2 separate regions of the Homo sapiens genome follow, and region 1 is linked to region 2. The links come from fine-mapping of genetic effects on plasma protein levels. Region 2 holds a variant in brackets. A gene starts in the other region. All regions are shown on their reverse strands. Region 1 holds the start of AXL (AXL receptor tyrosine kinase). Region 2 holds the start of SWINGN (SWI/SNF complex interacting GAS6 enhancer non-coding RNA).

The links. PIP is the chance, under the fine-mapping model, that this variant and not a neighbour inherited with it causes the effect. The UK Biobank Pharma Proteomics Project read protein levels with antibody pairs (Olink). The fine-mapping took linkage between variants from a reference panel, not from the people measured, so its PIPs are less certain.
Region 1: AXL starts here. The variant in region 2 is fine-mapped to the plasma level of the AXL protein (UK Biobank, PIP 0.96).

The regions. Positions count from the first base shown.
Region 1 is chr19:41,216,794-41,222,157 of GRCh38, reverse strand. AXL (AXL receptor tyrosine kinase) reads right to left here and starts at 2,935. Exons shown (of 20, transcript NM_021913.5): 1 at 2,681-2,935; 2 at 1,300-1,522; 3 at 912-1,012; 4 at 102-278. The coding sequence starts at 2,765. RefSeq lists enhancers at 1-719, 2,970-3,794 and a silencer at 3,222-3,361.
Region 2 is chr13:113,926,565-113,931,928 of GRCh38, reverse strand. SWINGN (SWI/SNF complex interacting GAS6 enhancer non-coding RNA) reads left to right here and starts at 2,938. Exons shown (of 1, transcript NR_047495.1): 1 at 2,938-5,364. It also overlaps a transcript of C13orf46 not described here. RefSeq lists an enhancer at 923-992. The variant T/C (reference allele first, on the strand shown) is at 2,962.

The sequences.
Region 1 (5,364 bases), not on the chromosome of region 2:
GGACAGTCAGACACTCACGCAGAGGTAGCAATGTTCCCTTGCTCCTGACTTCAGCCCTGCCCGGCCCCCTATTCGGAGCTGACCCACATCCCCGGACTCACCTGGAACATGCAGGCTGCGCTGGGGGCCGTGACCTGGAGCCGTGGCCAGGGGGACAGCATCCTGGAGCCAGAGTAGGTCCACGGGCTCTGGGGGTCCCTGAGCTTGGCAGCTCAGGTTGAAGGGGGTGTTGGCGGCCACAGTCCTGTCTTCGGGCTCCTCCAGGAAGTAAGGCAAGCCTAGCGGGGTGGGCAGTGGTAGAGGCTGGGGTCCCTCTGAGGCCCCAAGATGCCTGACTCACCACTAGGATGCTGTAGGCTTTGGGCAGCAAACCCACCCTGCAGGGTCATTGACTTGCCTTATCTGATCCCCGAGGGCACCTGAGCCATACCCAACACACACGTGACCCCAATATCTGATTCCTCCCATGTCAGACCCCCCACGATAGCTGAGCTCCTCATGTCTCTCTTCCAGAATGTCTGACAGCTCATCCTCATCTCATTCTATGGATGAGAAAAAAGAGACCGCTGGGGTCGTGGGGACAGGGGTACGTTGCGTGCCTCTGACGCCTTATCTGAAGACCAGAATGGCCTCCTGTGACCTGATGGTGTCTGATGCCTAGGACATCCAACTACCCCCAAGAAGTCTTTTCACCCAGAACATATAATCCCCCAGCCTTGGCACCATAACTTATATGGACTCCCAGCTTCTTGACCACCCAAAACTCTGACATTCTTAGGCTGTATGACGCTAGGTTCATCCTGAATCCTCCAGCACCCTTTGACCTTGACCCCTCAGGATTCCTGACTTCCCACAACCTATGAGCGCCACATGTCCTCTGACCCCTCAGGACCCCTGACCCCAGAGCTCACCCTCCAGCCCAACATAGCCAGGCTGGGACACGAAGGTCTGATGTCCCAGAAACACCAAACACTGGTACTGTCCCGTGTCGGAAAGCTGCAGGGAGGTGATTCTGACAGGGCAAGAGGAGAGACAGAGAGGTTCAGGGTCAGAGCTGGACACTGGGAGGGGGTCTGTCAGAACGGAAAGAGGGTGTCCAGTCTGGAAGCTCATGACAACCACGAAGTATGTCCTATTATTAACTCATTTTGCAGAAGAGGAAAACGAAACCTAGAGGTTCCATCACATGCTCAAAGCCGCACGGCTGACAAGTGGTCAAACTGGGGTTCCCACCCAGGTGGGCTTTCTGCCCTCTGTGTGACGGAGGTGGGAGTGGGATTCGGGGATGTGGCCACACACCTGAGCTGGCTGACCACTATCCAGTCATCCTGTTCATCCTCACCCAGGGGCACCTGGGTCTGGGTGCTGTCCGCGAGCTCCAGGATCTGTCCATCCCGAAGCCAATGTACCTCGGGGGGCTCTCCCTGAACCTGGAGCTGACACCGAAGGGTGCCCGTGAGTCCCCGGGCACCTGTGATATTCCCTGGGTTGCCCACGAAGGGACTTTCTTCAGCCTGCGTGCCTGGAGGGGAGATGGGAAGAGTTAGCTTAGGAACCCCCCAGCTCCTTCCGGCCCTCAGTTCCACCCTGTCCTTGCCTGCCCACCGGCGGCCAGGACCCCGCCAGGCCCTTAGGCCGACATAGTTGCAGAGTGACCTCAGAGTGGGGTGGAGGGCGGAGGCTCTGAGAGGAGGACGGGAGCCCTCCCAAGGGACTGGGATCTAGCGTCCATCCCGTCGGGAAGGAGGCTCGGGATCTGGCAGCCTCCCACGCCCTGCACTGCCTGGCAGGGCCAGCCCCTGCCCCCTCCGTCCTCTCTTAGGTCTCTAGAGACTTAACAGGTCGCGCTGGTGCTGGTGGATGGAGGGGAAGAATCAGGGGTTGGGGGAGAGAGATAAGGGTGGTGGTGGGGGGAGATAAGGGTGGTGGCGGAGGGAGAAGCCAGAGAAAGGCAGGGGAGATGAGACAGAGAGGAGCACAGATACAAGGCAAGACAGAAAAAATGAAGAAACAGCCCTCAAGAGAGAAGAAAAGGTGGGGGCGGAGGGGGGATACAGTCACAGAGGGAGGCTGAGAAGAGAGAGAGAGACTCAGAGAGCAGGGAGAGATAAAGGCAGAGACTGTGAAAGAGAGAGAAACAGAGACCCACAGAGATAGCAGAGCTGGAGGCAGAGACAGAGAGACAAAGTGAGAGCCTCCTCCCCAGAGATGGAGTGGACTGGTGGGGTAGGGACAAGTGGCGGGTCAGGGGGGTGGTGTTGGCAGGGAGAAGCGTTTTCCCCCAGGGCTCCAGAGCCCTCCTCATCCCACTGCCTGACTCGGTGCCCCTTCGGAAAGATTTCTTCCTTCCTGGCGACCCTCAGCTCAGCCCCTCTCCCCATGGCCCCCTTCTCAGGTCCAGCCCCCACCCCTGCCCTCAGCTTCTCCTTGTCTGTCTGTCTCTCCGGGTCCTCTCTTCTGTCCCCCCTGCCCTTCAGTTCCTCTCTCAGTCTTTCTCTCCCTCTGCCGCACTTGGTGTCTCTGAGTCTGTGTCTCCCTCCCTTGAAGTCCCTTTTCTGTGGTCCCAAGGAAACTCCCTAAGCCAGCCCAGGCCCCCCACACCTGCCATCATCCCCCACCTCCTACCCCTGCCCCAGCCCCTCCGAGGGGATCCCTGCCCCAAGGAGCCCCCATCACTCACCCCTGGGGGCCATGCACGCCCAGCCGCACAGCGCCAAGCACCAGGCCAGCGGGACCCTGCCCATCCTGGGGCACCGCCACGCCATGGGTGCCAAACTTTCCTCAGAAGTTGTTGGGCTCCCAGCGGGGGAGGGGGCAGGGCCGGGCTGTCCCCGGCCCTCCCCCCAGCTCCAGGCTCCCCGGATTTGGCACTGCCTGCCTGGCACAGCGGCAGGGGAGGCCCTTGCCACCGGCTCTGCCCAGCAGCCGCCTTCTCAGCACCCCTGCCTCCTTCCCTCACTCCCAGACTTGGGCAACCCTTTCTCCGCCCCTGGCTCCCCCTTTGCCTCCGCCCACCAGGGCCAGAGCCCAGGGGCCACCTGGACAATCAGGGGTTAACTCAAGAGAGGAGAGGATCAGCTCTTTCTTAAAGGGGCCAGGGAGGGAGCTGAGGAGGGGGAAGGGGACCCTGGTGGCTGTGCCCCCTGTCCTGAGCCAGTGAGGCCGTGTCTCTCTATCCGGGCTCTGGGCGCTGTCCCTCTGGGCTCTGTGTCTGGTAAACATTCCTCCAGAACTCCACTCCCCTCTCAGCTCAGGCCGTGACGCCCCTCTCCCCGCCTCCACCCCCAGCCCAGCCCCAGCCAGGCCTCCTTGGCCCTTCATTCCCCCTCACTCTCTCGGCTCCTCGGACAAGGACACACACACACACACACACACGCACGCACGCACGCACGCACACACACTCTTAGACGTCACTGACACACACAGGCTAGGACAAGCAGAGACACGCAGAGGGACCCAGACGGGCAGGGGCATGCTACTGGCCCACAGACACACTCAGACAAGCCAGGCCAGGAGCTCGATTCCTGGAGAAACCTCAGAGACAGGAGGACACGGCTGGGTGGGCATCCATGGGGGACACTTACTTGGGGAGACACAGATCTTCAGACACGCCAAAACCTGCATGGACGCCTAAATGGGACACCAAATACAGGCGACATGAAGGGGACCCAAGTTGGAATCCCAGTGCTACCACTAACTGTGGGCTACAGGCAAGTGACTGGCCTCCTGAGCCTCAGTTTGTCCATCTGTAAAATGGGAATAAGAATAGTTGTTGGCCGGGCACAGTAACTCACTCCTGTAATCCCAGCACTTTGGGAGGCCAAGGTGGGAGGATCGCTTGAGCCCAGGAGTTCGAGACCAGACTGGTCAATGCACTGAGACCCCCATCTCTACAAGAAGTTTAAAAATTAAAACTTAACCAGGTATCATGGCGTGTGCCTGTGGTCCCAGCTACTAGGGAGGCTGGAGTGAGAGGAACGCTTGAGTCCAAGAGATCGAGGCTGCAGTGAGCCCTGATCATTCCACTGCTCTCTCCTTCTGGTGGGACTGTGTGTCCTGGTTATTGCAGATCTGCTGCCTGCGTATCGGCTCTGCTGCACTTCCATTCCTCGGCCCTGTGTGTTTGGCACGTGGAGGGCTCTGCATGCCTGGATGTCTGTGAGGAGGAGGCTGGGCGTCTATCCCTCTGCTCTTGGCCACCTGTGTTTGGGTACTGGTATACCTACGGTGCATCATAAAGTCCTATCTGTTTGGCCTCCTGATGTCTCTTCTACCTGCCCCTTCCCAGCACCCCCGTCTGATCCTGCCTTCTCCTGCCTCTACTGTCACTCCTTTCTCCCATTTAGCAACCAGAGGACTGTTTCTGAAAGTCAAATCCTACCCTGTCCCTTCTCTGCTTGCCCATGGCCTCCTGCTGCCCTCAGGGCAAGCTCCCAGCTCCTTGTCACTGGCCACTTAGGGCCCTTCACCGTTGTCTCCCTGGGCTGTGTCTTTTTTTTTTTTTTTTTTTTTGAGACCCAGTCTTGCTTTGTTGCCCAGGCTGGAGTGCAATGGCTCGATCTCGGCTCACTGCAACCTCCATCTCCTGGGTTCAAGTGATCCTCCCACCTCAGCTTCCTGAGTTGCTGGGATTACAGGTGTGCACCACCATGCCAGGTTAATTTTTGTATTTTTGGTAGAGACGGGGTTTCACCATGTTGGCCAGGCTGGTCTGGAACTCCTGAACTCGTGATCTGCCCGCCTCGGCCTCCCAAAGGGCTGGGATTACAGGCGTGGGTCACTGTGCCCGGCCATGGGCTGCTGGCTTCTGTTGCTCCTTCCAACCTGTCTCCCACTCAACAGTCAGAAGGCTTCTTCCCAATCTCAAACCAAACCCTTTCCCACCTCTGCCCCAAACCTTTCAGCAGAACCCTAAACTCCTTATGTTTCTGTGACCCTCCCCTCGCCTCCCCAGGCTTCTCTCGCTTTCTCACCCAAAGAGCCCCCTCAGAGGACTTGGAGCAACCTCCTGCAGCACTTTGTCCCCAACTCTATCATCCCTTCTCCATCGCATCACTGCCTGGCCCCCCCAGCCCAATCTAGGTCCTCATATTGTTCACTCCCAACATGCTGTCCCTTTCCTTGGCAACACTTTGCCTGGGTTGTCATTATATATTTATTGGCATGATTATGTGTCTCACATCTGTCTCCTCCCACTGGCCTGTGGGCTCTGCGGGGGAAGGGACTGGGTATATTTTGGGAACTGCTGCATCTTCACCGCCCTGTAAAAGGCCTGCCATAAAGGGGACAATTCCTTATTGTGGCATTTTTTTTTTCTTGAGACAGAGTCTCACTCTGTCGCCCAGGCTGGAGTGCGGTGGCTGT
Region 2 (5,364 bases):
GGGAGGGGATGTCCATGGTCTCGATTGTGGTCATGGCTCTGTGGGTGCAGCAGAATGTCAAAACTTATCAAACCGTACGTCTTAAATATGGGCATTTAATTGCATGTCAAAAAAATCTAAACAAAGCTGAAAATGGACAAAATACCACAACCAATGACATCTGACCGTAAAGAGATGGATTTAGGTAGAAGGAAGAATTCTTTAACACAGAATATGGGTCTCTGAGGGAAATGTTATCTCGTAATTTTCTCACTTTTGGTGTATTTAAGCTGTAGGACAAGGAGTGAACCCTAACATTTGGTGAGAGTCTGTGAAACACACTAGGAACCCCCATGCTGCTTGCGAGTTACTTCCGAGAAACAGCAGAATGTCACACCCTGTCACCCGCAGGTGCCGTCTGAGGGGCGCTCATCCCCACCAGCCCGAGGGCCTCCCCGCCAAGGGAGGGGTGTACTCCCTTCCACTTGGCGTCTGCTTGTGCATTGCCCCTCCCTGAACTCAAGACCTGAGCCTCTCTCGCCTGGACTATTTGGAAAGTCTACAAATGGAAGAAGGGGTGCTCTCACTGAGTTGTGTCCGCACAAGGGAAACTGTCCAGGAGCCACAGAAGCAACCGCAAAGTGAGCCTCTCAGACGTGGTTAAAGGGAAGCCAGGCAAAAAGACTGCACGCTGTTGGGTTTCATTTACTCAAAACCCTAAAACAGGCAGAATGAGTCATCTGTGGTAAACCAGCATTGGGGTTACCTCTGGGGGCCGGGAGGGAACCCTGGGGTGCCAGTCACGTCTGGCGTCTCGGCCTGGGTGGTGGGGATGGCTCGCCAAGCCTGTTTGTTGCACACGTGGCATGTCAGCAGAAACACGGGGCAAATACACACGTGAACACAAGAACCCCGGGTCCCTCCCTCATCTACCCAGCGACCCTCAGTCACCCCAGCCGGCTCCCTCTCGCCACCCACGGGCTTTCTGTGGAGGCCCCAGCCTGGCCCTGGAGGCCGTGACCCACCCCGCCTCTTGCCTGAGGTCAGCCCAAGAGACCTTCCTGTCTTCGGCCTGGAGAAGGAGCGGCCGCCAGGACCACCCGGGCCTCAGCTCCCTGGGAGGGCCCCTGGAGGACCGGGGCTGCTAAAGTCCACGGGCATCACCGCATCTAATCCAGGCCCTTTGATGTGGGTGATGTTGATACTCCCACTTTACAGGTGGGGAAACCAAGGCTTCAGCTTCCGTGGCCAGGGGATGAATGGGAGTGTGGTCTGGATGGTGGCTCCTGGACCGGAAGCATGATGGGAGCCATGAGGAATGCAGGTTCTTGGGTCCTTCCAGCTCTGCTGGATTGGATGCTCGTGGGGGCTCAGGGTCAACACAACCCCCCAGGACTCTGACCTGGGAAGTGGAGCAGCCTGATTTGGAGGCGAGGACACACCAGGAGGCACCTTGCCCTGTGGCCACTGCACTGAGGCTTGAGAGATCACTAGAGACAGCTCAGCCTCAGTGCTCCCGCGCCCCCGCCTCGGTGCTCCTGCGCCCCCGCCTCGGTGCTCCTGCGCCCCCGCCTCGGTGCTCCTGCGCCCCCACCTCGGTGCTCCTCCACTCCCACCCCGGTGCTCCTTCCACCTCTGCCTCACCCGATGGACTGTGCCTTTGCGTTTCTTGTGCACAAATCCTGCTGAAGTCTGGGCAGCTGTGTGTTTGATGATGGGCTTGTAGGAGAGAAGCATCTGGACTGCGCCGTGCAGATGGCGCTTCTCTCCAGGCACAGTCACATTCCTGGGAGGTTCCTGGAGGCCTCCGAGCCTCGTGCAGACCCAAGGCTGCCTCACCACCATGGCCACAGCCCAGTGCTGGCTGCCGGGCATCAAATCTGCAGAAATGCACGTGGCATAAAAGCACCAGAGACATCCGTCCAGAGCCGAGGGCTCCTCCCTGGCCCAACATTTTGTCCACGTAAGTCCACTTTTTGGCTGCTGCTCCCAGGCCTGGCAAGAACGCAGATCCCCACAGCCTCCTGCTCCCTGGCAGCCTGAGGACAGTGTCGTAGGCCTGGGATCCTCGGGCAGAACTGAATGCAGCTTTTCCATTGGAGGGCGCTGGGCCCACATGGCAATCACAGGTATGGCAGATGAACTCACGGGATGCTCCGGGACTCCAGGGGCCTCAGGAGAAAGGCCCACTGGCAGCGGGTTGCCCAGGGCTCCAGAGGGGGGCTCCAATGTGAACCAGTTGCTTGTGGCACAGCGGGTCACCCAGGATGGCCCTGCGTGGTCAGTGATAACAGGCAGTCACTCACAGCGCGACTTCACCCATGGTCACTCCCGGTGACCAGCACTGCACAGCCTGGGCTTTCGTCCCACATGGCACCTCCCTGTCCAGCCTTGGCCCAAGTGCCTGGGAAACAGACAGGGCACCGTGTGCCTGAACACACTCGGACAGTCGAGGCCCCCAGGAGAAGCAACAGGCAATGACTCGGTCCCCAAGAAGCTGAGCCTGTCCTTGCTGGGGTCTGTCATCTCCTCTTAGCCCCGCCAGGCTCCTGAAGCTGCCACATGTGCAGCGGGAGGTGGGTGGTTTGGGAGCAGAGCGAGGCTCTGGATGGACGGGCTTTACCACCAGCAGCCACCACCACCTGCTCTGCAGGGCCTGGGCCAGCCCTGAGGAGGTGGCAGACGGAAGGAGGGGCAGCACTGCCTCAGGTCTCCTTTACTGTCTTCCAGACATCAGCTCAGGGAGAGTAGGCATGTAGCACTGAGAAACAGGGTTGCTCCCCATGGCTGCCTCTGCTTCCCTGCCGCACAGTGTCTGTACACGGCCTGGGGACCTGCGAGGCCAGACCGCAGGGCAGGGGCCCACGGCTGTGCCAGCTTCTCTCCCAGGCCGTGGCGGTTATTACCTCCTGACTTGGCAGAGCATCCGGCTACTGGAGCCCATTGGTTCCGGCCAGTGCAGTCAGGACTTAGCTTCCCAGC[T/C]GTGATCTAAATCCCAGCCTCCCAAAGGCACAGCGCCTAAGTTCTCCCCTGCCAAGCTCACAGCCTTCTCCTTGGCAGGCTGCCCTTTCTCCTGCTGGACCAAACCAAGGAGCACGGTGACCCAGGGACACCACACTCGGTGTCAGCCTCTGAGGCCATGGAGCCACGCAGACCCAGCACAGGATTAGAAACAGACCTTCCCGGGAGGCAGAGAGCCAGGCCTCCTGGTTTATAGCATGACAAGGCAGCACTCAGGAGGACGCATCAATCCTTCTCCATGTCAGCACCTGTGACTGTGACCACTGGTGAGGTGGACATGCTTCTTTTTCCATTTTACAGATGAGGAAACTGAGGCCAAGGGAGGGTCAGCAGCCTGCCCTGGGCTGACTGGTGATGCAGCGAGGGTGGGGTGTGGGAGGGTGGCGGCGGCCCTTGCAGTCCCTGGGAACCTGCACCTCTTCCTGGGCGCTGTTCCCCTCTCTCTCCCAGGACCCTTGGGCCTGGCGTTTCTTCACCTGCGACCATCCAGGAGCTGGACCTGCCCTAGGGCGTCAGTTTCCAGGGAAGCCTCTGGCCTGTGTGTGAGCCTCCCCACCTGCCCGGCCACGGCCTCCACAGGCGCCCTGCGCAGCCCCGCCCCTCCTGGGGCAAAGGCTTTGCGAAGACTTTCTTCTCTGGCTCATCCCTTTAAGGAGGCATAAAAACGAACCCCGGGCCTCACAGGTCCGGAATGCGCCCCCCTCCACGATGGGAGCTTCTTGGCCTTGGCTGTGCAGGGGCCGCGGCTCCTGGGGGTCTGGCCGGATCTGCAGTAGTGCTGAATGAGCTGTGGCCAGGAAGACGCAATGAATAATTGTCACTTAAAAGGATAAACAGAAATTCCATTTCCCTTTTAAATACTTGAACATTTCAAAACATCTGGAGGACGCGATGCTTTTCCTTCCAAGCATCTCCGTGGAGTTTTGTGGGTTACCGCAGAGGATCGGCAGCATTCCTCTCTCAGGGAAAACTGGCCTGAGCATTGCATAACGCAGGCAGACTGCACCCCTCACGTCGCCTGGGGCCACATGCACATGTTTCCAAGAGACTTGCTGGAGAATCTTCCCCGGATCTTGACAAAGTTGGACATGGAAAGCACGTTGGTCCATCCAAGGTCCACAGAGCGACCCTGGCTATGAAAAATCATCCTCCGAGTGGGAGTCTGTCTGCCAGGAGTGAGGTGACACCGCACATGGCCTCAGGAGCTGGAAACGCTGGTGAATTCAGATGCAGCCAAAGCTTCTAACTTAGTCACAGTTATTAATTATTCTTGGTCTTATTGGAGCAGGAACCACTGCCATGCATCAGGCCAGCAAGGCTCACTCCCCACCGTAGGATCCCTGTGTAGACGGTCGCTCCATCAGTGTAGTTGGGTGTGTGGAGCAAGGGACTGGGCTGACCCTACCTTCCAAGCATCGATGTGGCCTTCAGCAGAGCAGGAGGAGATAGCCCAGGACTTGTACTTTGCAGTTGAAGTGCCAGACCTAAGAAATGCAAACCTGAGGATGGAAAGAGGGTGGAGAGGGGGGAGGTGTCTGGATTGGCCGTCCAGAGCAGCCCCAGCTGCAGCAAGTGGAACTTGGCTGGCTGCCTCACAGGCCTGGTGGCAGCGTCCCCAGCGAGGAGCCTGTCCCACATATGAAGGTCCCCATACCCTTAGCCCCTAGCTGAGAGTTTCACTGACCAGAGCTCCCTGAGTCCAGGGCTCCACTCAAGGGACTGCTGTCCCCGTTGGTGAAGAAGGCCTGTTGGGGCCAATGCTTCCCCCCACAGGGAAGCGGAGCTGTATTTTGTCGGACAGAACTTTGCAAGCCTGAAACAGCTGGTGGTGGCCCCAGAGCCAAGATCTGACCTCACTCCAGAGTTGAAGGGCACAGAGAAGGCACAGCTAGAGGCGGCAGGTACCCCTCAAAGCTCTCGGGAGAGGGTACAAAGTGGGACCTCCCAGCACCCTTGGCCTCCAGGCCTCAAAAGCCCTGAGAGGGCTGCATGCAAGGAGACAAAGCTGGAGAAGGATGTGGGAGGCAGGTGGCTAAGAAGACAGGCTGGAAAGGGACGTGGGAGGTAGGTGGCTTTGCTCTAAACAGAATCGTCTCAGTAATGTGACACTGCACATGTATAGGTAGGCTCGCTCATGGGCATAACCCTCTAAAACACACCTTTTATGGAGTGAAATTCACTTAACAGCCATCTTGAAGCATATACTTCGGCGGCATTTGCTGGATTCACGACGTTGTGCAACCTCTGCTTCTCCAGTTTCAGAACATTTCATCCCTCCAGAACAACAGCTCATCCCCATTAAGTAATCACTCCTCATTCCTTCCCCATCCTCTGGAAACCACAGATCTGCTTTCTGTCTCTATG